3 separate regions of the Homo sapiens genome follow, and all the other regions are linked to region 1. The links come from fine-mapping of genetic effects on gene expression. A gene starts in region 1. Each other region holds a variant in brackets. All regions are shown on one strand. Distances are between the middles of the regions. Region 1 holds the start of APOC1 (apolipoprotein C1). Region 2 holds the start of APOC4 (apolipoprotein C4). Region 3 overlaps CLPTM1 (CLPTM1 regulator of GABA type A receptor forward trafficking).

The links. PIP is the estimated chance that this variant, and not a neighbour inherited with it, causes the effect.
Region 2: its variant is the best candidate, but not a certain one, in a credible set for the expression of APOC1 in monocytes (Quach 2016, PIP 0.66).
Region 3: its variant is the best candidate, but not a certain one, in a credible set for the expression of APOC1 in lung (TOPMed, PIP 0.68).

Annotation. Positions count from the first base shown.
Region 1 is chr19:44,910,207-44,917,767 of GRCh38, reverse strand. It overlaps APOC1 (apolipoprotein C1), which reads right to left and starts at 3,160. Exons shown (of 4, transcript NM_001645.5): 1 at 3,035-3,160; 2 at 2,819-2,896; 3 at 1,443-1,578. The coding sequence starts at 2,876. RefSeq lists enhancers at 2,089-2,846, 2,847-3,606, 4,365-5,124 and a promoter at 3,021-4,147.
Region 2 is chr19:44,935,224-44,942,784 of GRCh38, reverse strand. It overlaps APOC4 (apolipoprotein C4), which reads right to left and starts at 548. Exons shown (of 3, transcript NM_001646.3): 1 at 432-548. The coding sequence starts at 507. It overlaps APOC4-APOC2 (APOC4-APOC2 readthrough (NMD candidate)), which reads right to left and starts at 547. Exons shown (of 6, transcript NR_037932.1): 1 at 432-547. The variant C/G (reference allele first, on the strand shown) is at 4,135.
Region 3 is chr19:44,984,351-44,991,911 of GRCh38, reverse strand. It overlaps CLPTM1 (CLPTM1 regulator of GABA type A receptor forward trafficking), which reads right to left. Exons shown (of 14, transcript NM_001294.4): 6 at 6,609-6,694; 7 at 5,337-5,457; 8 at 4,489-4,733; 9 at 3,739-3,832; 10 at 1,327-1,517; 11 at 967-1,062; 12 at 539-674. Among named protein-coding and RNA genes, the nearest start is that of RELB, 13 kb to the left of the region's middle. RefSeq lists enhancers at 2,122-2,171, 2,652-2,811. The variant A/G (reference allele first, on the strand shown) is at 4,534.

The DNA.
Region 1 (7,561 bases):
ACCTCAGGTGATCTGCTTGCCTTGGCCTCCCAAAGTGCTGGGATTACAGGTGTGAGCCATTGTGCCTGGCCTCCAAACGATCTTTCTAAGTTTATGCCTGGCTCTATTTTCCCTCCCTCCCTCCCTTCCTTCCTCCCTCCCTCCCTGTCTTTCTTTTCTCTTTTCTTCTCTTTTCTTTTCTTTTTTTGTTGAGACAGGGTCTCATTCTGTTACCCAGGCTGGAATGCAGTGGCACAAACATGGCGCACTGCAGCCTAGATCTCCTGGGCTCAAGCAATCCTCTCGCCTCAGCCTCCCAAGGAGCTGGGACTACAGGCATGGGCCACCATGCCCAGCTAATTTTTTTTGCATTTCTATTAGGGACGGGGTTCTCGCACTCCTGACCTCAAGTGATCCACCCACCTCGGCCTTCCAAAGTGGTGGGGTTACAGGTGTGAGCCACCGTGCTCGGCACGTTCTTCACTGTTTTATTCCCCACATTGAAACAGTTTCCAGCACTTAGCAGATGCTCAGTAAATATTTTTGAAAGAACGAATGACTCTCTAACTTGCCAAAGGGGGCAAGGGTGGGTTTCATGATATACTGAGCATCTACATGTACCAGACACCCTGTAGGCCTGCTCCTTTACTTCCCTGTAGAACCACCAGTTTATAGGAGAGGAAACTGAGGCTCACAGTAATGCCCCTCTGTCAAGATCACACAGGAAGGGGTGCTACTCCAGCCTGGGGACCCAGGTCTGGCCAAGCTTGGGGCCTTCATTTTCATTACCTCACAAAACCATCTTTTTTTTTTTTTTTTTAAATGGAGACAGGATCTCGCCATGTTGGTCAGGCTGGTCTCGAACTCCTGGGCTCAAGCAATCCTCCCATCTCAGCCTCCCATAGTGCTGGAATTACAGGTGTGAGCCACCATACCTGGGCAAGACCATCTTGTTTTTTTTTTTTTTTTTTTTTTTTTTGAGACAGAGTCTCCTTCTGTCACCCAGGCTGGCACAATGTTGGCTCACTGTAACTCCCACCTTCCTGGTTCAAGCAATTCCCCTGCCTCAGCCTCCCGACTAGCTGGGATTACAGGTGCACGCCACCATGCCTGCCTAATTTTTTTGTATTTTTAGTAGAGACAAGGTTTCACCATGTTGGTCAGACTGGTCTCGAACTCCTGACCTCAGGCAATCAGCCCACCTCGGCCTCCCTAAGTGCTGGGATTGCAAGCATGAGCCACCGTGCCCAGCCCAAGACCATCTTTTAAAATATGGCCTGGATGGGAGTCAGGGAAACTGTCCTTGAAGTCTGAGCACCTTGAGATCTAGCTGTGTGACCAGAGGGATGTTGTCAGCCTCTCCAGGACTTGTTTTTTTTTCAATCTGTTCATCTTGGACCATCTGCCAGGGCTCCACCCAAAAACACACCCCAGCTCTCCCGTGCCCTGGGAAGGGTTCTAACCGCATCTTGGCAGAAAGTTCACTCTGTTTGATGCGGCTGATGAGTTCCCGAGCCTTGTCCTCCAGTGTGTTTCCAAACTCCTTCAGCTTATCCAAGGCACTGGAGACGTCTGGGGTCCCCTGGGCTGGGGCTGGGCCTGCCAGGAAGATGGGCAGGGGTTCAAAATTTGTTTTTTTTTTTTTTTTTTTGGAGATGGAGTCTTGCTCTGTAGCCCAAGCTGGAGTGCAGTGGCATGATCTCGGCCTACTGCAACCACCACCTCCCGGGTTCAAGCAGTTCTCCTGCCTCAGCCTCCCAAGTAGCTGGGATTACAGGTGTGCACCACCACACCCAGCTATTTTTGTTTTGTTTTGTTTTGAGACGGAGTCTTGCTGTGTCAGCCAGGCTGGAGTGCAGTGGTATGATCTCGGCTCACTGCAACCTCCGCCTCCCGGGTTCAAGTGATTCTCCTGCCTCAGCCTCCCGAGTAGCTGGGCCTACAGGCGCGTGCCTCCACACCTGGCTAATTTTTTTGTATTTTTAGTAGAGACGAAGTTTCACCATGTTGGCCAGGCTGGTTTCGAACTCCTGACCTCAAGTGATCTGCCCGCCTCGGCCTCCCAAAGTGCTGGGATTACAGGCATGAGCCACCCTGCCCGGCCAAAAATTTGTTATTGGAACCCCCTTAGGTTGGGATACCGGGATGGATAGAGATCCTTGGGGATCATGTGGTTAGAATGGGGAGGAATGGCCGGACGCGGTGGCTCACGCCTGTAATCCCAGCACTTTGGGAGGTCGAGGCAGGCGGATCACAAAGTCAGGAGATCGAGACCACGGTGAAACCCTGTCTCTACTGAAAATACAAAAAATTAGCCGGGCGCGGTGGCGGGCGCCTGTAGTCCTGCTGAGGCAGGAGAATGGCGTGAACCAGGGAGGCGGAGCTTGCAGTGAGCCGAGATCGCGCCACTGCACTCCAGCCTCGGCGACAGAGCGAGACTCCGTCTCAAGAGAAAAAAAAAAAAAAAAAAAAAGAATGGGGAGGAATACTGGAGTGACCTGGTGGGGCTCAAGCTGCTGGGAATTGCCTTACTCAGCACTGACCTCTCCCAGAGCCCCCCACCCAGCTTACCCACTTTCAAGGCTGTCGAAGCAGGACAGCCAATCCCAGAGGTGTGGGCCTCAATACGTCATCGGTTGCTAGTGCTCTCCTGCGCAGATTTGGCGCCTGCGGGACTGAGCCTGGGAGAACCTGGAGACCCACCCGACCACGATGAGGCAACCACGACCCAGAAGGGGCCCCGGAGCTCTCAGAGGTCCTCTAAGCCGGGACCCCAGGCCTGTAGCCACCTTCACTCTTCCAAATCTCCAACTCCGCAATTCTCCCATCCCACTTTTACCTTCCAAGACGATCGACAGAACCACCACCAGGACCGGGAGCGACAGGAAGAGCCTCATGGCGAGGCCGGAGGGGCACTCTGGAGGCAGAGGCAGGGGTTCAGGGGATCAGTGGCACCCTCCTCCCTCCCTACCTCCCTCCCACGATCCCCTCATCTCCCTTTTTGAGTTTCTTGCAGAGTGTAGGCGGGTGTCCCTCCCAGGCACTCAGCACCAACCTGAATCCTTGCTGGAGGGCTTGGTTGGGAGGTCCTGTCCTGCCCGCAGGACCTTTATCAGGCTGGGGAGGGGGCGGGGCAGGTTGATGTTGATCTCCCTCCTCCTGAGCCTTCCCCTGACCGCCTGCCTCCCTCTGTCCACCCACGTTTTTCTCCTCTGCCCCTGTCCCGTGAGCGTTGGGGTCAGGTGGGGTCCCGGGCACTTCCCTTAGCCCCAAAGCCCCTCCCCGTTCAGCACTCTCACCTCTCAATCTTCCTGACTCTGTGGGGTCCTCAGACCACCTTAGTCCCTTTCCCCACTCAGAATGTAGCAGGAGGAGCCGCAGACAAAATTCCTCAGACGCTGAGTTAAGGAAGGGGTTTATTCGTTCGGGGAATGGGCAAGATTCCTGTCTCAAGAGCCGAGCTCCCCGAGTGAGCAATCCCTGTTCCTTTTAAGGGCTCACAACTCTAAGTGGGTGCACGTGAGAGGGTCGTGATCGATTGAACAAGCAGGGGATGCGTGACTGGGGGCTGCATGCACCGGTAATTAGATCGGAACAAAACAGAATAGGGATTTTCACAGTGCTTTTCTATACAATGTCTGTAATCTATAGATAACCTAACGGATTAGGTCAGGGGTCAATCTTTAACCACCAGGCCCAGGGTGTGGCGCGGGCTGTCTGCTTGTGGATTTCATTTCTGCCTTTTAGTTTTTACTTTTTCTTTCTTTGGAGGCAGAAATTGGGCATAAGACAATATGAGGGGTGGTCTCCTCCCTTAAGAAGACAGCCTTGTCCTGTCCCTGTGGCCATCTTCCCTCAGGGGTCTCCCAGTAATAACCCTGTGATCTCATCCCCCCCTCATTCACACCGTGTCCCTAGATCACCTCTTTCCCTCACTTCCCCTCTCTCAGCAAGCCTCCTCAGCCCCAACAACTTTTCCTTTATGTTGCTGGGTCTCCCAGTTGGCCCGGCGCTCCTACCCTGCGTGCCACCTCCAATTTATTCCAGACCAGCCCTTGAAGCACCCCAGACCACCGTGATATTCTCTGGGCTCTTAACTTCATGGTTCTCAGTCTCCCTTTTTTGGGAGGGGAACGGGTCGCCTTAGCTGGATGACACTGCAAAAACCTCACCTGCATTAGCCAGGCATGGTGGCTCATGCCTGTAATCCCAGCACTTTGGGAAGCTGAAGAGGGAGGATCACTTGAGCCTGGGAGTTCGAGACCAGCCTGGGCAATATAGGGAGACCTCATCTCTACAAAAAAGTTCAAAAATTAGCCGAGCGTGGTGGCGCATGCCTGTAGTCCCAGCTACTCAAGAGGCTGAGGTAGGAAGATTGCTTGAGCCCAGGAGTTCGAGGCTGCAGTGAGCTGTGATTGTGCCACTGCACTCCAGCCTGGTGGGACAGAGACCCCATCTCAAAAAATTAAAACCCTCAGCTGCAAAGCTCTGCGTGTATGTCCCTTCTTCCCTTCCACCGGGCCTCACCCCCTTTGGCTGGCTACCTCCCCCAAACACTCTATCTGCTTTTATTCACCCTCTGACGCCCCTCCTGGCACCAAGCCTGCTTCCCACCATCACTACATCCGTCCCCCAAGGCTGGAGTCCAATGCCTTCCCCACCAGCTGCCTTTGACCGCCAGTGACCCTGGCAGCTGGTGGGGAGGGTGTCCTCCGCCTAGCCTCAGACTCTAGGTTGGCTGGCCTTGTGCCCCCGCAACCACGTGTCAGCCTGGCAGTAGGGGGATGGTTGTGAAAAGGACAGCATAGACAAGACCCTGGCAGGATTGCAACATCCCTCTGGCCAGCTCAGAGCTTCCAGTCCCTGTCAGCCCCAGGGGCCCCCCTACTTCCCCAACTAAGCCCAGCACCCCCCAAACATCCACCCAGATGTCTGCTTCCCAGACCCCACAAGAATAGCATAACAATGCTCCTGCTTTTCCAACCTCATCCTCCCCTCTGCTATAGGGGTTTCTCTTTAATAGATGGGGAAACTGTCGCATAACCAAGAACATCCAGTAGGGCTCAGCGAGGGGCAAAGATGGGGGCTACTGGCTGGTTGCAGTGGCTCACGCCTGTATTCCCAGAACTTTGGGAGGCCAAGGTGGGCGGAGCACTTGAGGTCAGGAGTTCGAGACCTGCCTGGCCAACATGGTGAAACTCCGTCTCTACCAAAAATTCAAAAATTATCCAGGCATGGTGGTGTGCACCTGTGGTCCCAGCTACTCAGGAGGCTGAGGCAGGAGAGTCGTTTGAACCCATGAGGTGGAGGTTGCAGTGAGCCAAGATTGTGCCACTGCACTCCAGCTTGGGTGACAGAGTGAGACTCCGTCTCAAAAACATAAAAAAAATTTAAAAAAGGGGGCTCTTTGTCCTTCTCCTTCCCAGGCTCCAGGATGTCTCTGTGGATGGTTGCTGGGTCAGCTCCTGTCCCATACGACTCCCTGCCAGCCTTTGTTCTGGAACCTCCTTCCCATCCTTGTCCCACCTCTGGATCTGACTGGGGATGTGGTGAGATAGGGCACCCTGTCTGCTTAGACATCTTCATAGGTTGGTGGGGCGTGGTGGCTCACACCTGTAATCCAACTACTTTGGGAAGCTTTGGCAGGAGGATCTGCTTGAGCCCAAGAGTTTGAGATCAGCCTGGGCAACATAGTAAGACCCCATCTCTACAAAAAAGTTTAAAATATGGCCAGGCATGGTGGCTCACTCCTGTAATCCCAGTGCTTTGGGAGGCCGAGGCGGGTGGATCACCTGATGTCAGGAGTTTGAGACCAACCTGACCACCGTGGTGAAACCTCGTTTCTACTAAAAATACAAAAATTAGCCTGGTGTGGTGGTGTGCGCCTGTAATTCTAGCTACTCAGGAGGCTGAGGCAGGAGAATTGCTTGAACCCGGGGGGCAGAGGTTGCGGTGAGCCAAGATGGTGCCACTGCACTCCAGCCTGGGCGACAGAGTGAGACTCCATCTCAAAAAAGAAAGAATTAGCCAGGCATGGTGGTGGGTGCCTGTGGCCCCAGCTACTCAGGAGGTTGAGGCAGGAGGGTTGCTTGAGTTGGAGGCTGCAGTGATTGATGATCGTGCTACTGCACTCCAGCGTGGTCGACTGAGCAAGGCACTGTCTCAAAAAAAAAAAAAAATTCTTAAAGGTGAGAACTCAAGGTTCGATTCTTCAGGTGGGAGATGTGGCTGATGCTGATTCTCTCATTGACATCTGGGGAAACTGAGGCTCTGAGAGGGTGCTGCTCCAGCTCCTGGACATACGGTGAATCAGCAGCAGGCCCAGCAGACCAGGCCCCCTGCCTGTGAGCACACTGACCCTTCCCCTCCTCACTCAGCCCTGGTGAGTCATCTCCAGGGGAGGGGTGCTGCCTCCACGTGGGTGATCAGAGCAGTGCCAGGGAAAGCACCAAGTTCAGGGTGTGCAGGAGCCAAGATGGGCAGAGGGACAAGCAGATGTTGCAGCTGGCCCAGGAGATACAAGCTCAAGTCTCAGCCTGTCCCCCGTTGGTGGGAACCCTCCTCCCCGTCTCTGAGAACTGAGGGGGTGGGAGGAGAAGAGAGTGCCGGCGGCTCCTGGGCTTCCATCCAAGCTTCCCCTCTCTGAGCGCCAGCTCTCGTCTCAGCATGGGCCTGGTGCAGACTCCGACAGAAGAGCCGCTCCCTTCTCTTCCCAGCCTGGATTCAGCACCCAGTAGGCTTGTTGGGAAACATGAGGGGTAGACATCACAACTGGAGGAAAGGATGGAGAATGAGGGATGGTCCGGGTGAGGTGGCTCATGCCTGTAATCCCAGCACTTTGGGAGGGTGAGGCAGGCAGATTACTTGAGGTCAGGAGTTCGAGACCTGCCTGGCCAACAATGCCGAAGCCTTGTCTCTACCAAAAATACAAAAATTAGTCGGGTGTGGTGGGACACGCCTGTAATCCCAGCTACTCTGGAGGCTGAGGCAGGAGAATTGCTTGAATCTGGGAAGTGGAGGTTGCAGTGAACCAAGATTGCACCACTGCACTCCAGGCTGGGCAACAGAGCAAGACTCTGTCTCAAAAAAAAAAAAAAAAAAAAAAAAAAAAAAAGAAAGAAAGAAAGAGAATGAGGGTTGGGCAGGGAAACCCAGTTCACAGTGGGTGAAGGGACAGCTAGCTCAGAGGGAACCGGAGAAGCAGAGAGCTCAAACCAAACTGAATGGCAGAAGAAGAAATCCAGATGAAGGGGGTTGGGGGAGAAACAAGCAGGCCGGGGAGAAAGAAAAGAAACCGTAGGAGGGAGAGATAAAAGATAGAAGTGGAGGAAAACAGGAAGCCAGAGTCTCCTGAGGAGAACAGGGAGAGACAGAGGGGTGGGATGGGGTGCAGGGTGGGTGGGAAGGAGGCAGATATCAGATAAGACTGGAGGAGAGAAGGGGGAGAATAATGACAGCAGAAAAAAAATGAAAATAGCTTAGAATAAAGGCACCAATCTCAGGTCATTTGGAGTTGCAACTCTGAGGAACAAGTATTATTAAGTTGGGCAGGCCGGGCTCGGAGCCCCATGCCTGGAATCCC
Region 2 (7,561 bases), 25 kb before region 1:
GTGAGACTCCGTCTCAAAAAAAAAAAAAAAAATGCATATGCAAAACACAGACGTACACACCAGCACACACTCACCCCCTCACACATGTCCACACACTCAAATATTTTGCACACACATACCCCACAGAGAGACAGGTGCACACAAATACACATATGCACACAGACATGCACTTTTTTACCACGACTGCATACTCCCACTTCCACGCACGCACGTGCACACACACAGATGATCCCAGTTTGTACCAATGTGACATTCACACTTCACTCTCAGCCACCGACACACACACTCCCCGACACGCACATGCATACGCACGCCATGAAACGCACACACTCCGTACTCATGTCTCACGTGGCTACAGAGCCACAGGACACACAGCCACACTCACACCCACCAGGTGTGGGCCCCACATCCCTCCACCCACTTCTTCTCACCCCCAATGCAGGCCAGGACCAGCACGCAGAGGCACAGGGCAGGCAGGGCCTGGAGCCTGTTTCTGAGGAGGGACATTTCTGGGGGTTCCGTGCCTCTGTCCCTCTGTGCTCAACTCTGCGGGCCGGGGGAGGGGAGGCTGCACAGAGCAGGGCCCTCCCCCGGCCACCTCCCCGCTTGGCAGAGACTTCAGAGAGCAGGGCCCAGGTGACAGTGGCAATCAGAGGTCATGCCTCTGTGGGCCTCCCTCCTTCTCACCCTCCCACACAGTGCCCTGAGAGAAGACAGAGGCTCTTGAGCCTCCTGCACTGAGGCAGGTTCAAATCCTGTCTCCACCTCCCATGACAGCCTCATTTGCTGGCCTCAGTTTCCTCCTCCATAAAGTGGGAGGCACAGTACATATTTCAGTATATTACTTGAACAAATACAAAGAAAGGCGCAGTGGCTCACGCCTGTAATCCCAGCACTTTGGGAGGCCGAGGTGGGCAGATCATATGAGGCCAGGAGTTTGAGACCAACCTGGCCAACATGGTGAAAAACCCTGTCCCTACTAAAAATACAAAAATTAGCCAGAAGTAGTGATGCGTGCCTGTAATCCCAGCTACTTGGGAGGCTGAGGCAGGAGAATGGCTTGAACCCGGGAAGTGAAGGCTGCAGTGAGCCGCGATCACACCACTGCACTCCAGCCTGGGTGACAGAGCAAGACTCTGTCTTGAAACAAAACAAAACAAAAAATGAAGAAAGCTCTTACCGTGGAGACTGGCAATATAGGTGCTCAAAGATCATTGCTGTTGGCCAGGCGCGGTGGCTCATGCCTGTAACCCCAACACTTTGGGAGGCCGAGGCAGGCGGATCACGAGGTCAGGAGATTGAGACCATCTTGGCTAACACGGTGAAACCCCATCTCTACTAAAAATATGAAAAATTAGCCAGGCGTGGTGGCAGGCGCCTGTAGTCCTAGCTACTCGGGAGGCTGAGGCAGGAGAATGGCGTGAACCTGGGAGGTGGAGCTTGCATTGAGCCGAGATCGCGCCACTGCAGTCCAGCCTGGGCGAAAGAGCAAGACTCCGTCTCAGAAAAAAAAAAAAGATCATTGCTGTTATTATTATCTTGTGTCTAATTTCTCCTAGTCACTGGGCTGCAGGGCCAGGCTTGTGGTAGGGCCTCAATAGGGCCCAAGGGTTGATGAGAGGAAATAGCAACACAGTCTCATGTCTCCAGCCTCTGTTTCTTCCTAGGTGGGCTCGAGCCCGATCACTTCCAAGCATTCCTTGAGTTCTCAATTCCAACTCTTTCTCCTCTGGGTGACTCTGGCTTCAGATGGACCTGGGCTTCGAATCCCTCACTTCTTCACCGTGTGACCTGGGCAAATACGTTTTCTTTTCTGGGGCTCAGTTTGTTCAACTGTAACACGGGGTTGATAGGGAGCACCTGCCTCCCAGTGTCCTCATGCAGGACGGCTGAGGCCTATGCAGGAGAGCTGCAGGTGCACATAGTAGGAGGTCATCAACATCAGGCCCAGGGCCAGGGCGGTGGCTCCCACCTGTAATCCCAGCACTTTGGGAGGCCGAGGCAGGCGGCTCACTTGAGGTCAGGAGTTCAAGACCAGCCTGGCCAACGTAGTGAAACCCCGTCTCTACTAAAAATACAAAAATTAGCCGGGTGTGGTGGAGCGAGACCTTGTCTCAAAAACAATAACAACAACAAAAACCAACAAAAAACCCACATCAGGCTCGGTCCCAGTGCCAGAAATAGAGCATTTTTCTCCTGAAGGACCCAGCTGCACCCCAGGGCACATGGCTCAGGGGACTATGGACTGGATTCTTTTTTTTTTTTTTGAGACAGAGTCTGGCTCTGTCGCCCAGGCTGGAGTGCTGTGGCGCGATCTCGGCTCACTGCAAGCTCCGCCTCCCAGGTTCACGCCATTCTCCTGCCTCAGCCTCCCGAGTAGCTGGGACTACAGGCACCCGCCACCACGCCCAGCTAATTTTTTGTATTTTTAGTAGAGACGGGGTTTCACCGTGTTAGCCAGGATGGTCTCGATCTCCTGACCTCGTGATCCGCCCGCCTCGGCCTCCCAAAGTGCTGGGATTACAGGCTTGAGCCACTGCGCCTGGCCTGGACTGGATTCTTTTGTCTACGCTTGCCAGACGAAATAGAGGAGGCCCAATTACATTTGAATTTCAAATCAACAGTGCATGACGTTTTAGTATAAATATGTCCCATGAAATATTTCAGAATTATACCAAAAAGTTTTTTTTGCTATTAATCTGAAATTCAAATGTAACTGAGCATCCTGTATTTTTACATGGCAAATCTGCAAACGCAACCTTGGCCACAACCTGAACAACTGTGCAGGACTGTCTTGACCCAGATGTCTGCCTTGGCAGAATCCTGTCCATCCCAGAGGCCCCAGCGTGAGCACAGTAGGTGCGCAACAGATGTCCCCTGGAATTCCTCTGTAGCAATCATCAGCAGATTGAAAACACCCAGAGTTTCTGTTTGGGATGACGAAGACATCCTGCAAATAGTGGGGATGGTTGCACAACAGTGTGAATGTACTTAATGCCACTGAACTGTACACCTAAAAATGGCTGCAATGGTTAAGTTTTTTTTTTTTTTTTTTTTTTTTTGAGGCAGAGTCTCACTCCGTCACCCAGGATAGAGTGCAATGGTGTGATCTTGGCTCACTGCAACCTCTGCCTCCCGGGTTCCAGCGATTCTCCTGCTTCAGCCTCCCGCGTAGCTGGGATTACAGGTGTGCGGCAACCACACCCGGCTAATTTTTTGTATGTATGTATGTATTTGAGACATAGTTTCGCTCTTGTTGCCCAGGCTGGAGTGCAATGGTGCGATCTTGACTCACTGCAACCTCCGCCTCCCGGGTTCAAGCGATTCTCCGGCCTCAGCCTCCTTAGTAGCTGGAATTATAAGCGCCTGCCACCATGCCCAGCTAATTTTTTGTATTTTTAGTAGAGACGGGGTTTCACAATGTTGGCCAGGTTGGTCTTGAACTCCTGACCTCAGGTGATCCACCTGCCTTGGCCTCTCAAAGTGCTGGGATTACAGGCGTGAGCCACCATGGCTGGCTCATTTTTTTGTATTTTTAAAGAGACAGGTTTTCACCATGTTGGCCAGGGTGGTCTCAAACTCCTGACCTCTCAGGTGATCCATCCACCTCAGCCTCCCAAAGTGCTGGGATTGCAGGCATGAGCCACTGCGCCTGGCTGCCCAGCTAATATTTTTATTTTTTGTAGAAACACAGTTTTGCCAAGTTGCCCAGACTGGTCTTGAACTCCTGGGTTCAAGTAATCCTCCCACCTCAACCTCCCAGAGTGTTGAGATTACAGGCGTGAGCCACCACACCCGGCCATGTTGTTTATATTTTACCACAATTATAAAAAAACAAAAACAGCCAGGTACTGTGGCAGGGGCTTGTAGCCCCAGCTACTCAGAAAGCTGTGGTAGAAGGATTCCTTGAGCCCAGGAGTTTGAGAGTCCAGCCTGGGCAACATAGTAAGACCCCGTCTCTTAAAAAAAAAAAAAAAAAGCTGGGCACGGTGGCTCACGCCTGTAATCCCATCACTTTGGGAGGCCAAGGCGGGCGGATCACGAGGTCAGGAGTTCGAGACCAGCCTGACCAACATGGTGAAACCCCCGTCTCTACTAAAAATACCAAAAAAAAAAAAAAAGTTAGCTGGGCAT[C/G]GTGGTGGGCACCTGTAATCTCAGCTACTCAGGAGGCTGAGGCAGGAGAATTGCTTGAACCTGGAAGGTGGAGGTTGCAGTGAGCCGAGATCGCGCCACTGCACTCCAGCCTGGGCGACAGTGCGAGACTCAGTCTCAAAAAAAAAAAAAAAAACAGGCCGGGCGCGGTGGCTCACGCCTGTAATCCCAGCACTTTGGGAGGCCGAGGCGGGCGGATCACGAGGTCAGGAGATCGAGACCATCCCGGCTAAAACGGTGAAACCCCGTCTCTACTAAAAATACAAAAAAATTAGCCGGTCATAGTGGCGGGCGCCTGTAGTCCCAGCTACTTGGGAGGCTGAGGCAGGAGAATGGCGTGAACCCGGGAGGCGGAGCTTGCAGTGAGCCGAGATCCCGCCACTGCACTCCAGCCTGGGCGACAAAGCGAGACTCCGTCTCAAAAAAAAAAAAAAAAAACAACAAAAAACAAGGGCCAGCATGGTGGCTCGTGCCTGTAATCCCTGGTGGCAGGATCACCTGAGCCCAGGAGTTAAGACACTAATCTGGGCAACATAGGGAGACCTCATCTCTACTAAAAATAAAAAAAAAAAATTTAGCTAGGCGTGGTGGCATGCCCCTGTAGTCCCAGCTACTCAGGAGGCCGAGGTGGGAGGATTGTTTGAGTCTAGGAGTTCAGGGCTACAGTGAGCTATGATTGTACCATTGCATTACAGCCTGGGTGACGCTGTCTCCACAACAAACAAAAGCCCAAAATAAAAAACAAAAACAAACCTACTGTGTGTTGTGTTATGATTGGTGTGGGGTTCAGAGCCTGACTCTACCTGTTGCTTCTTTTCCTTTCTTTCCTTCCCTCCCTCCCTTCTTTGTTTTTTGAGATGGAGTCTTGCTCTATTGCCCATGTTGGAGTGCAGTGGCGCGATCTCGGCTCACTGCAACCTCCATCTCCTGGGTTCAAGCAATTCTCCTACCTGAGCCTCCCGAGTAGCTGGGACTACAGGCGCCTGCCACCACACCCAGCTAATTTTTGCATTTTTAGTATAGACAGGGTTTCACCACGTTGGCCAGGCTGGTCTTGAACTCCTGACCTCAGGCAATCCACACGCCTTGGCCTCCCAAAGTGCTGGGATTACAGGTGTAAGCCACTGCTCCTGGCCTGTTTTTTTTTCTTTTTGAGATGGAGTCTTGCTCAGTCACCCAGGCTGGAGTGCAGTGACGTGATCTCAGCTCACTGCAACCTCTGTCTCCCGGGTTCAAGCAATTCTTCTGCCTCAGCCTCCTGAGTAGCTGGGATTACAGGCGTCCGCCACCACGCCCAGCTAATTTTTGTATTTTTAGTAGAGACGGGGTTTCACCATGTTGGCCAGGCTGGTTACGAACCCCTGACCTCAAGTGATCATCCCGCCTCAGCCTCCGAAAGTGCTGGGATTATAGGCATGAGCCACCGCGCGTGGCTGACTCTACATCTTTCTAGCGGTATGACCTGGTACAAGTTGCTTTACCTGTGTGGGCCTGTTTCTTCATCCATGAATGGGAGTCATGGACTATCTACCTCATAGGGTTGCCAGGGAGAGTAAAGATCGTGCACAGAAAATGCCGCATAGGTGCCCCGTCAACGCCAGCTACTGTTTAATTCGTGCGCGCTTCCCCAGCACACACTGTGTGGCAGGAACCATGGCAGGGCTTTTAGATGATTACTTTACTTAATTGCGGTGGGGCATGGTGGCTCATGCCTGTAATCACAGCACTTTGGGAGGCTGACACAGGCAGATCACTTGAGGTCAGGAGTTCGAGATCAGCCTGGCCAATATAGTGAAACTCTGTCTCCACTAAAAATACAAAAATTAGCCAGGCATGGTTGTGGGCGCCTGTAATCCCAGCTACTTGGGAGCCTGAGGCAGGAGAATTGCTTGAACCCGGGAGGCAGAAGTTGCAGAGAGCCAAGATGGCTCAATGCACTCTAGCCTGGGTGACAGAGCTTTCCATCTCAAAAAAAAAAAAAGGTGGGGGAGCTGGGCGTGGTGGCTCATGCCTGTAATCCCAGCACTTTGGGAGGCCGAGGCAGGTGGATCACAAGGTCAAGAGATTGAGACCATCCTGGCCAACATGGTGAAACCCCATCTCTACTAAAAATGCAAAAATTAGCTGGGTGTGGTGGCGGGCGCCTGTAGTCCTAGCTACTCAGAGGCTGAGGCAGGAGAATCGCTTGAACCCGGGAGGTGGAGTTGGCAGTGAGCCGAGATCACGCCACTGCGCTCCAGCCTGGTGACAGAGTGAGACTCCATCTCAAAAAAAAAAAAAAAAAAAGAAAAAGAAAAACAAAAAAACTACTTACTTATTTGCCACAAAAACCCTATCAGGTGGGCATCTTCATCATTTCCATTGTACAGATGGAGAAACAAGCCTCAGGGTGGGGGCGCAGCCACTTACTGACGACTCCTCAACCAGCAAGTGGTGGTTTTGAACCGGGACCCTCTCACACTACCTAACCAGGCCAGGACAACCTCTGCCCCTCTCCACCAAAATCCAAGAGATCAAGGGGATGTTGGAAGTGGTATGGGCCCTGAGAGGTCTCTGACCTCTGCCGCAGCTCCAAGGTCAGCACGCAGGGAGGGCTATGTGTTTGCTGTTTGCTGCTTGCAATGTTTGCCCATATCAGGGACGGGAACAGGCTGAAGGTCATTCAGGGTGGACTTCAGAGGCAGCACACAAACAGCTGCTGGAGGATAGGAACTAAGAGGTCGGAAGGGGGCAGGGCGGGCCCAAAAACAGAGCCTGCAACTCTGTTCTCTAAGTCACCAAGCCCCAAAACCACTCTCAAATCTTTCTCTCTACCCCTGGATCCTTACCCTGGTCTGAATCCCATCCCCTCATCCCCCGAAACCCTGCACCCTCCTCCCTGCTAATCTTCTGGTGTCTCTAGCCACTCCCCTCCTGGCTGGATACTCTGGGTGATTGCAGGGAAGGCTGGGGTAAAAAAGGGTTTGAAATGTCCCTCCTAATGCATGTTGAAAAATTGAGTTATAATTCACATTCCATAAAATTTACCCTTTTTTCTTTTTCTTTTTTTTTTTTTTTTTTTTTGAGATGGAGTCTCACTCTGTTGCCCAGGCTGGAGTGCAGTGGGGCAATCTCAGCTCACTGTAGCCTCTGCCCCGCAGGTTCAAGAAATTCTCCCGCCTCAGCGTCCCAAGTAGCTGAGACTACAGGCACTTGCCACCACGCCTGGCTAATTTTTTAATTTTTCGTAAAGATGGAGTTTCACCATGTTGGTCAGGTTGGTTTCGAACTCTTGAGCTCAAGTGATCTGCCCGCCTCGGACTCCCAAAGTGCTGGGATTACAGGCGTGAGCCACCGCGTCCTGCTAAATTTACCCTTTTAAAGTGTACAGTTCAATGGTTTTTCCTATATTGGCAAGGTTGCACAATCA
Region 3 (7,561 bases), 74 kb before region 1:
GTTTTTTGAGACAGGGTCTCACTCTGTCACCCAGGCTGGAGTGCAGTGGCGTAATCATGGCTCACTGCAGCTTCAACCTCCTGGACTCAAGGGATCCTCCCACCTCAGCCTCCCAGGTAGCTGGGACTACAGGCACGCACCACCACTCCCCAATAATTTCTGTGTTTTTTTGTAGAGATCGGGTCTTGCCAAGTTGCCCAGGCTGGTCACGAATTCCTGGGCTCAAGTGATCCTCCTGCCTCAGCCTCCCAAAGCATTGGGATAACAGGTGTGAGCCACTGCACCTGGCCCTACTTGTTTACTTGTTCCCAAGACACAAAGGCCCCCTGAGAATGAGGACTGAAGCGTACTGTTCATGTCCTCCCTGAAGTCCTCTCTGACCCCAGATGGGGCCATGTGTGCCCTCGGGCCTCCCTATATCCCAGCTCTGCCCACCCTAGGTTGTCCCTGTCTGGGGATGGGTCTGTCTCCTACACTGGGGCTGTGAGCCCTGCGCAGCATGGGGCCTGCTCTCTCCTGGGGCGGCCGGACCGCTCACCGAAGGTCAGCAGGAAGCCGTAGAGCATGCTGAGCACCCAGGAGTACCAGCCCTTGTGCTCCAGGTACAGAAGACTGTAGACGGCATAGCAGCCCAGGAGCGGGAAGAGGATCCAGGACAGGTACCGGAATGCCATCTGTGGGGCCACAGGGTGGGGCTGTCAGCCAGCTCCTCAGCCCTGCCTGGCAGCCCTGCTCCCCGCCCTCACCCACCACACCTGGTCTGGCAGGCCGGGCAGGGGGAATTTCCAGGTAGCCCTGGGGACTCCGGACTCGCCCAGGGAAGCAGTTATGGCAGATGGGGGACACAGAGGATGTGGCACAGGCTGTAAAGCATGGGTCCGGCAGACAGATGGCCGGCCCCGGGTGCCTCAGGGATACGTGGTACCTGGAGACCACCCCCAGGGGCCCACTGTGCAGGACACTCACATCATCATACACTTTGGTCGAGGACTCGATATACGTGGACTTGTCCTTGAAGGATAGGCGGGGGAAGATTCCTGCCACCCTGTGCTCTCGGTCCAGCTGTGGATGAGGTGGGTGCCATGGTCAGTTGCTACGCTGGCTCCCACCCCACAAGCCAGAACCAGCCCCTGCCCTTCCCCACCGTTCCCAGTTCCCCTGCCCCATGTGTGACCCAAAAAATCCCCTGGTGAGAAAATCCCCTCAGTCCTGGGAGTGAGGCACTTGCTGGGAATCCCCCGGGGGCCAGCTCCAGGGTCCAGCTGGGCCACACTACCCCCTCCCAACCCCTGCAGCTCCCGAGACAGCATGGCGCCCCAGCCTTACCCGGACGTCCATGACCTTGGTGATCTTCCAGAGGTCGATGAGGACCCCAATGAAGACGCTGACCTGGACCACGAAGTTGGTCTCGTTGTCCAGGATGTAGAGGAGGACCACGAATGACTGGAAAACGCCGAAGAAGACGGAGCGCACGGACAGGCCCTCCAGGGACTGCCGGCTGTTCCAGAACTGGATATCTGTGCGCAGGGGGTAGGGGGGAACCAGGAGGCTGAGGAGGTGCTGAGACCCTACTGCAGCTCCCTCAGGCCCCCTTGGCCTGCATCCTCACACCCTGGGGTGGGGCTGGGTCCTCAGGAGGGGTGCTGAACGAGACCCCTCTCTCCCAGGAAGGCTCTCATATTCATTGGGTGACCCCCAGAGCACCAGACAGGCGGCACCCCTGGAGCCCTCCCATAGGACGTCAGCACCCAGCACCCCAAGGTGCAGTCCCTTGACTGATGGTGACGGTGACTGGTGCCATGGACAGGGCTCACCACGTGCCAGGTGCTAAGGACTGGTCAGGGAAGCTGCTTCCCTGAGGCCAAACAGCCTGGCATGGCAGAATCTGAAGGGACGCGGGGTCTGTGCCACACCATGGTGCCAGCTCGCCCTCCCTGGGAAGGAAGATCTGTGGCATGCACTTCAAGACCACCTCCTCCAGGCCCCTGCCCTGACACCGGGAAGGAACTGGCTCACAGCCATGCTCAGGAAACTGAAAAGGGCCCTGGGCTCCAGTCTGGAGCTCCTTCCAGTGCTCCGCCTAGATGCTGCCAAGGATCCATGTCAGCATGCTCCTCTCTGAGCCCTGGTCTCACCACGGACACCCCTCTCTTGACCCCGCCCGGCTGAGCATCTAACCGCAGCCACAGGAGGCTGAGCCACCACGTCTGTAGCACAGTGGTGGAGCCAGGTCTGCAGTCCTGCAGAGTCAGGGCCAGCTCTGCACTCAGGGAGTGAGGGCTGTGAATTCTGGTCCATGTGCACCCTACCCCATCCCAGAGCTCCCCCACATCCCAGAGCTCCCCCACATCCCAGAGCTCTGGCACACTCCATAGCCTCACCCCACCCACCCCTGCCCATCAGAATGACCCCTGTCCCAACTGAGAAGAATGGGTCTGGAGACAGGGTTCTGGTGGGTTCTCGTGGGAGCAGTTGGGCCCAAGCCTCTCCTTAGACCAGGGAGGCCACACAGCACTGGTGCCAAGTGAGGCCTGCGCCCCCTGCTGCATGACACTGGGGAGGACAGCCTTCTTGTGCCTCATTTCTCACTGGACCCCAGCCAAGCCAGCTCCTAGGCAGAAGGGTCCCGTCTCCCAGCGACAGCTGGTAGATGGCTGGCTGGGGTCGGCACCAGCTCCTGTGCCCGTATGACACTGCATTCTTCCAGATGGTAGTTCTCAATAATGGCAAGAGCGTCCTTTTTTTTGGAACAGGGTGTCACTCTGTTGCCTAGGATGGAGTTCAGTGGTGTGATCATGGCTCACGGCAGCCTTGACCTTTCAGGCCCAAGCCTCCCGAGTAGCTGAGACCATAGGCACACGCTGCCATGCCCAGCTAATTCTTAAAAAAAATTGTGTAGAAACGAATCTCGCTTTGTTGCCCAGGCTGGTCTCAAACTCCGGGGCTTAGGTGATCCTCCCACCTTGGCCTCCCAAAGTGCTGGGATTACAGGCGAGAGCCACCACCAGGCCGGCAATAGCATCTTAATACCAGGAATACTACTACTCATTCCTCTTGCCGCCTGCGGGAGCTACAGGGCCGCAGGCCACTCCTTCAGACTGGGGTGCTCTGGGCAAGGAAGAAGTGGCCTGCAGGGCCTAGAAGATGAGAGTTGGGGCTGGAACCATCTGCCCCTTAGGAACCGTGTGACTGGGCAAGTGACATCCCTGAGCCTCTGGCTCCCACAGGGCTCAAGGAGCTACTGGGGAGGGTACCCAGGACAGTGCCTGGCATGTGGCTGCTTCTCCTCAAACGCTGGCCATCAGTATGGTCAGCCTTAGAACCTAGGGACCTTTGGGGGACAGTGCTCCTCCTTCCCACTTGGGCAGGCCCCGTCCACTCAGCCCTAAGCGGCCTCCCGCAGCAGGCAGCCTGCCGGGCAGGGTGGCGGGAGCAGCTCCGGGGCTTCCCTGCTCTTGGCTCTGGAGTTCCCCAGCCCTGCTTCCTGGCAGTATTGGCCTGGCCTCTGCCCCACCAGCGGGCCAGCCCCTCCCTCAGCTCCACACCCGGTGGGTGGGAATTTCTGGGTTGGGAGTTTTGGGGCCACTGCCCCTCCCCAGCTCACTAGGCCTCTGGAGAGTGGGGCTGAGAGACCCCAGGCAGGGGGAGGACATGTGGGGAGGGAGGGGAGGAGGAAGGGGGCAGGTCCTGTCCCCCACCCTGCACAGCCTCTCACTAGCCCTGGGGTCCTGTTCCTACCATTCTTGAAGGCCAGGAACTCGAAGACACTGTGAACGATAGACACGATGATGGTGAGCGCCAGCAGGTAGGGGTTGGTCTCCAGCAGGGCCACCTGCAGGGGACACATGTGAGCACAGCCTGTCCCCACCCAGGAGCACCTTCACTAGCTTTTGTCCCGAGGGCTGCCCCTGGGGCCGCCTGTAGAGGGAGGCTGAAGGTGGGCCAGCCAGGAGGAGACTGGGTCAGAGATGGGCAGATGGGGAGAGAGAGGAGGGTGACTCACAAAGACAGAAGAGACGGGGAGATGGCACTAGGGGAAGAGGCAGAGGCCAAGGGAGTGCTGCGGGGAGTGGGTGAAGGGACACTGGGAGCCAGGAGCAGAGACCCAACAGTGACGACAGCCCAGGAGGCAAAGCCGAGCCTCACGCCACAGACACAGGCTGACATTTCAGGACCCAGTGAGATGGCAGAGACACAGAGTTGGAGCCAGGGCCAGGGACACAAGGTCTGGGACAGAAGGAGGAAGGGACAGGTCTGGACCCAAAGGGTCCAACAGAACAGCCTGGGGAGAGGACCCCCAGTCATCTAGGGCTGGAGGGCTGGGTGCCCACTTCCTTTCACTGTGGAGAAGGGACCTGGGAGGTTGTGAAACTGTGGGCAGAGGAGCACCAGGCGGGAGGTCCCACAGCCCAGGCCTGGCACACTTCCTCTTGGCCTCTTGCGCCCAGGAAGGCACCGGGAAGTCCCGCCCACACCGGCCGCACTCACCTTCACCGAGTCCTGCTCCTCATCTGACTGCTCGTACAACTCATC[A/G]CCCAGGAAGTTCCAGGGCGACTTGGTGCTCTGGGCAGCATAGAGCTGCCAGCGCCAAAGCGAGAGTGGGCAGAAGGAGACGCGGAGCGGCAGGCTGGCCAGGCTCTCGTTGATGGGGTAGTAGTCCTTCTGCAGGTTCCAGTAGTCATTGAAGTAGATGATGGGATAGTAGTCACCGCTCACGGCGTCGAACTTCACATCTGCAGCACGTGGGGCAGGGGCACCATTTGGCCCGGGCAGGAGGCCAGGGTACCCGCAGGCCTCAGATGTCTGGAGAGACCCAACAGGGCCCCTCTACAGAGACTGGAGGACAGGGGACATTTCTAGGCCACACCATGAGGAGCTAAAGGGTGCCTTGACCTCAGCAGAGGGGACTGAGGCAAAGGGCAGGCAGGTCCCCACTGAAGGGGGCAGCTGTGGCTCAGCTCCAGCCCACGGCTGCCCTGTGGGTGACCATGTAACCCAGTTTTATAAAATAAGCCAGAAATTGTGGCTTTTAAGTGATACTGCCTCAATTTCAAAAGCTGGCAAGTGATAAGACATTTTTTGAAAACAGTTTGTGGGCTGGATGGCACTTGATTGCGGACCGATGCTGGCGTGTAGAAGTCAGTCCTGGGGTCCCCAGGGGTGGTGGTGTGGGAGAGGGAGAGGACATGGGAAGGGGATAGGACAGGGTGGGAGCTTGGGAGGGTGGAGCCCTGGAAAGCTCTCTCAGGGGGACAGGGCCAGGAGAAGACAAGGAGATGGACCCCGAGCACCCTCTCAAAGGCTCTGCAGGCAGCTGGCAGGGCTGGGGAGCTTACATTGATCCAGGGGAGGGGGCACACTGCCCTTCACCCACGGCGTGTGGTCGTCCACGATGTTGATGGTGATGTTGGGGTGCCAATGGGAGATCACCTCCACAGGCCCATAGTCCTCAGCCCTCTGAGGCAACATGGGGGGAAGGACCTCAGAGGCAGGTGGAAGTGCTCGGGGACTATCACTCTCTGTACACTTCCTCCCCAGGGTTCCCGAGAAAATCTTAATCTTTGCTTTCTTTTTTTTCTGAGATGGGGTCTCACTATGCTGCCCAAGCTGGTCTCGAATTCTGGGCTCAAGCACGATCCTCCCACCTCGGCCTCCCAAAGTGCTGGGATTAGAGGCGTGAGCCACCATGGACAGCTTCTTTTCTTTCTTTCTTTTTTCTCTTTTTTGGAAGAGATGGGGTCTCACTATGCTGCCTGGGCTGATCTTGAACTTCCGGGCTCAAGTGATCCTTCTGCTTCGGCCTCCCAAAATGCTGGGAAAACAGGCATGAGCCATCTCCCCTGACAACCCTGGCAGCAGAATATCAGCCACCACAGCAACTGCTGGCAGAAGGCTCTCCTCCCTAGGCTTAGAGATTCCGCCACCCAGGACCCTTCCGGCCACCGACAGGATCCTCCCACCCCACATGTAGAAAACCGAGGTAGAGGTAGAGGCAGGGCTGGCATCCTAGGCCAGGCTGCGAAGCCCAGCCTCATGACAGCAGGCTCCACACACTCTTGCACGGTGGCCTCAGCTCCATGAGCAGGGACCACCCCCCCAACACAGGACCACCCGCAGAGAGAGGAAGTCTCTTAGTGCCCACTGCAGGTTAACCACAGATTAACTGCCCGGCTCCCCAGCCCACTGGGAGTGACAGCAACTATGAATCCTGCAGTTCCTACTAAAGCCATATTCTCGTGTGTGTGCTTGGAGCCAGGCTGAGCTTGGGCTCTGGGGCCTGGCTGTGTGGGTGAGAGTCCCTGGCCTGCCACTTCCGGCTGAGACTGAGCAAGTGTCCTCATGTGACAATGGGACTGTGATGTAGACCCCTCCCAGGCTGGCAAGAGGCTCAGGTAACCTTGTCTGGGATCCTCCTCACTCCCTGAGAGACAGCTGCCTCCTGACCCCATTTCCCAGAGGAGGAGCCCAGTGCTCAGGGAGGGGAGGTGGCATGACCGAGCCGGCATGGTGGTTCAGTGGTGGTGACAGATGACAGCCCCAGTGGTCTGGGATGAGCTGTGAATGGCCTGGCTTGGTCCCTATAGGCCCTGACAACCCTGCCCATTTACCTTGATCATTTCTGGGTCCGCTTCTGTCTCTCCTGTCAGCAGGTTCTTGGTTTTCTGAAATCGTCTGCGCTTGTATTTGTTGATCACTGTGGTTGGGAGGTGGGAAAGGAGGGGACGTGAGACCTGCTGGCACCTGCAGCCTCCAGAGCCCGGACCCCTGCCCACCAGCAACGGCTCACGGTCTCCTGGCATCCACCTTGCACTCACCTGCTGAGATCAATGTGACCTGGAATGCCAGAACTGCCTCCCCAAATCTCAACGAATCCCAGTTCCTCATGATCATGGGGACGCCACCATCACCAAATGCCCCAGGCAGAAACCCCAGCTCAGTAGGGCACTGTAATCCCAGCACTTTGGGAGGCTGGGGCGGGCAGATCCCCTGAGGTCAGGAGTTAGAGACCAGCCTGGCCAGCATGGTGAAACCCCCCGTCTCTAATAAAAATACAAAAATCAGCCGGATGTGGTGGCGGGTGCCTGTAATCCCAGCTACTCGGAAGGCTGAGGCAGGAGAATCGCTTGAACTAGGGAGGTGGAGGTTACAGGAAGCTGAGATCGCACTGTTGCACTCCAGCCTGGGCAACAAGAGCGAAACTCCGTTTCAAAAAGAAAAAGAAAACAAACAAACAAATAAATAAAAACAAGTGACTGATCATGGCATCCCGCAGCTTTGGAACCCCAGACACTCACCGTAGCCCCGGTGACCTCTCAACCCTCACCACCTTCCACTTCTCAAACATGCCAACCCGGGGCCTTCAGGCGTGCTGCCCCGTGTCCCAGGAACCCATGCCCTGACACAATCTTCGTGGCCTGGCTCCTCCGTGGCATTCAAGTCCCTGGCAGAATGTCCTTCTTCCACAGGGCTTCCCTGGCCACCCCACTGAATGAGCCTATGCAGTCATTCTCCTGCCAGCTTGTTTCCTTCACAACATTTCACCACTATCCAAAACCACTTA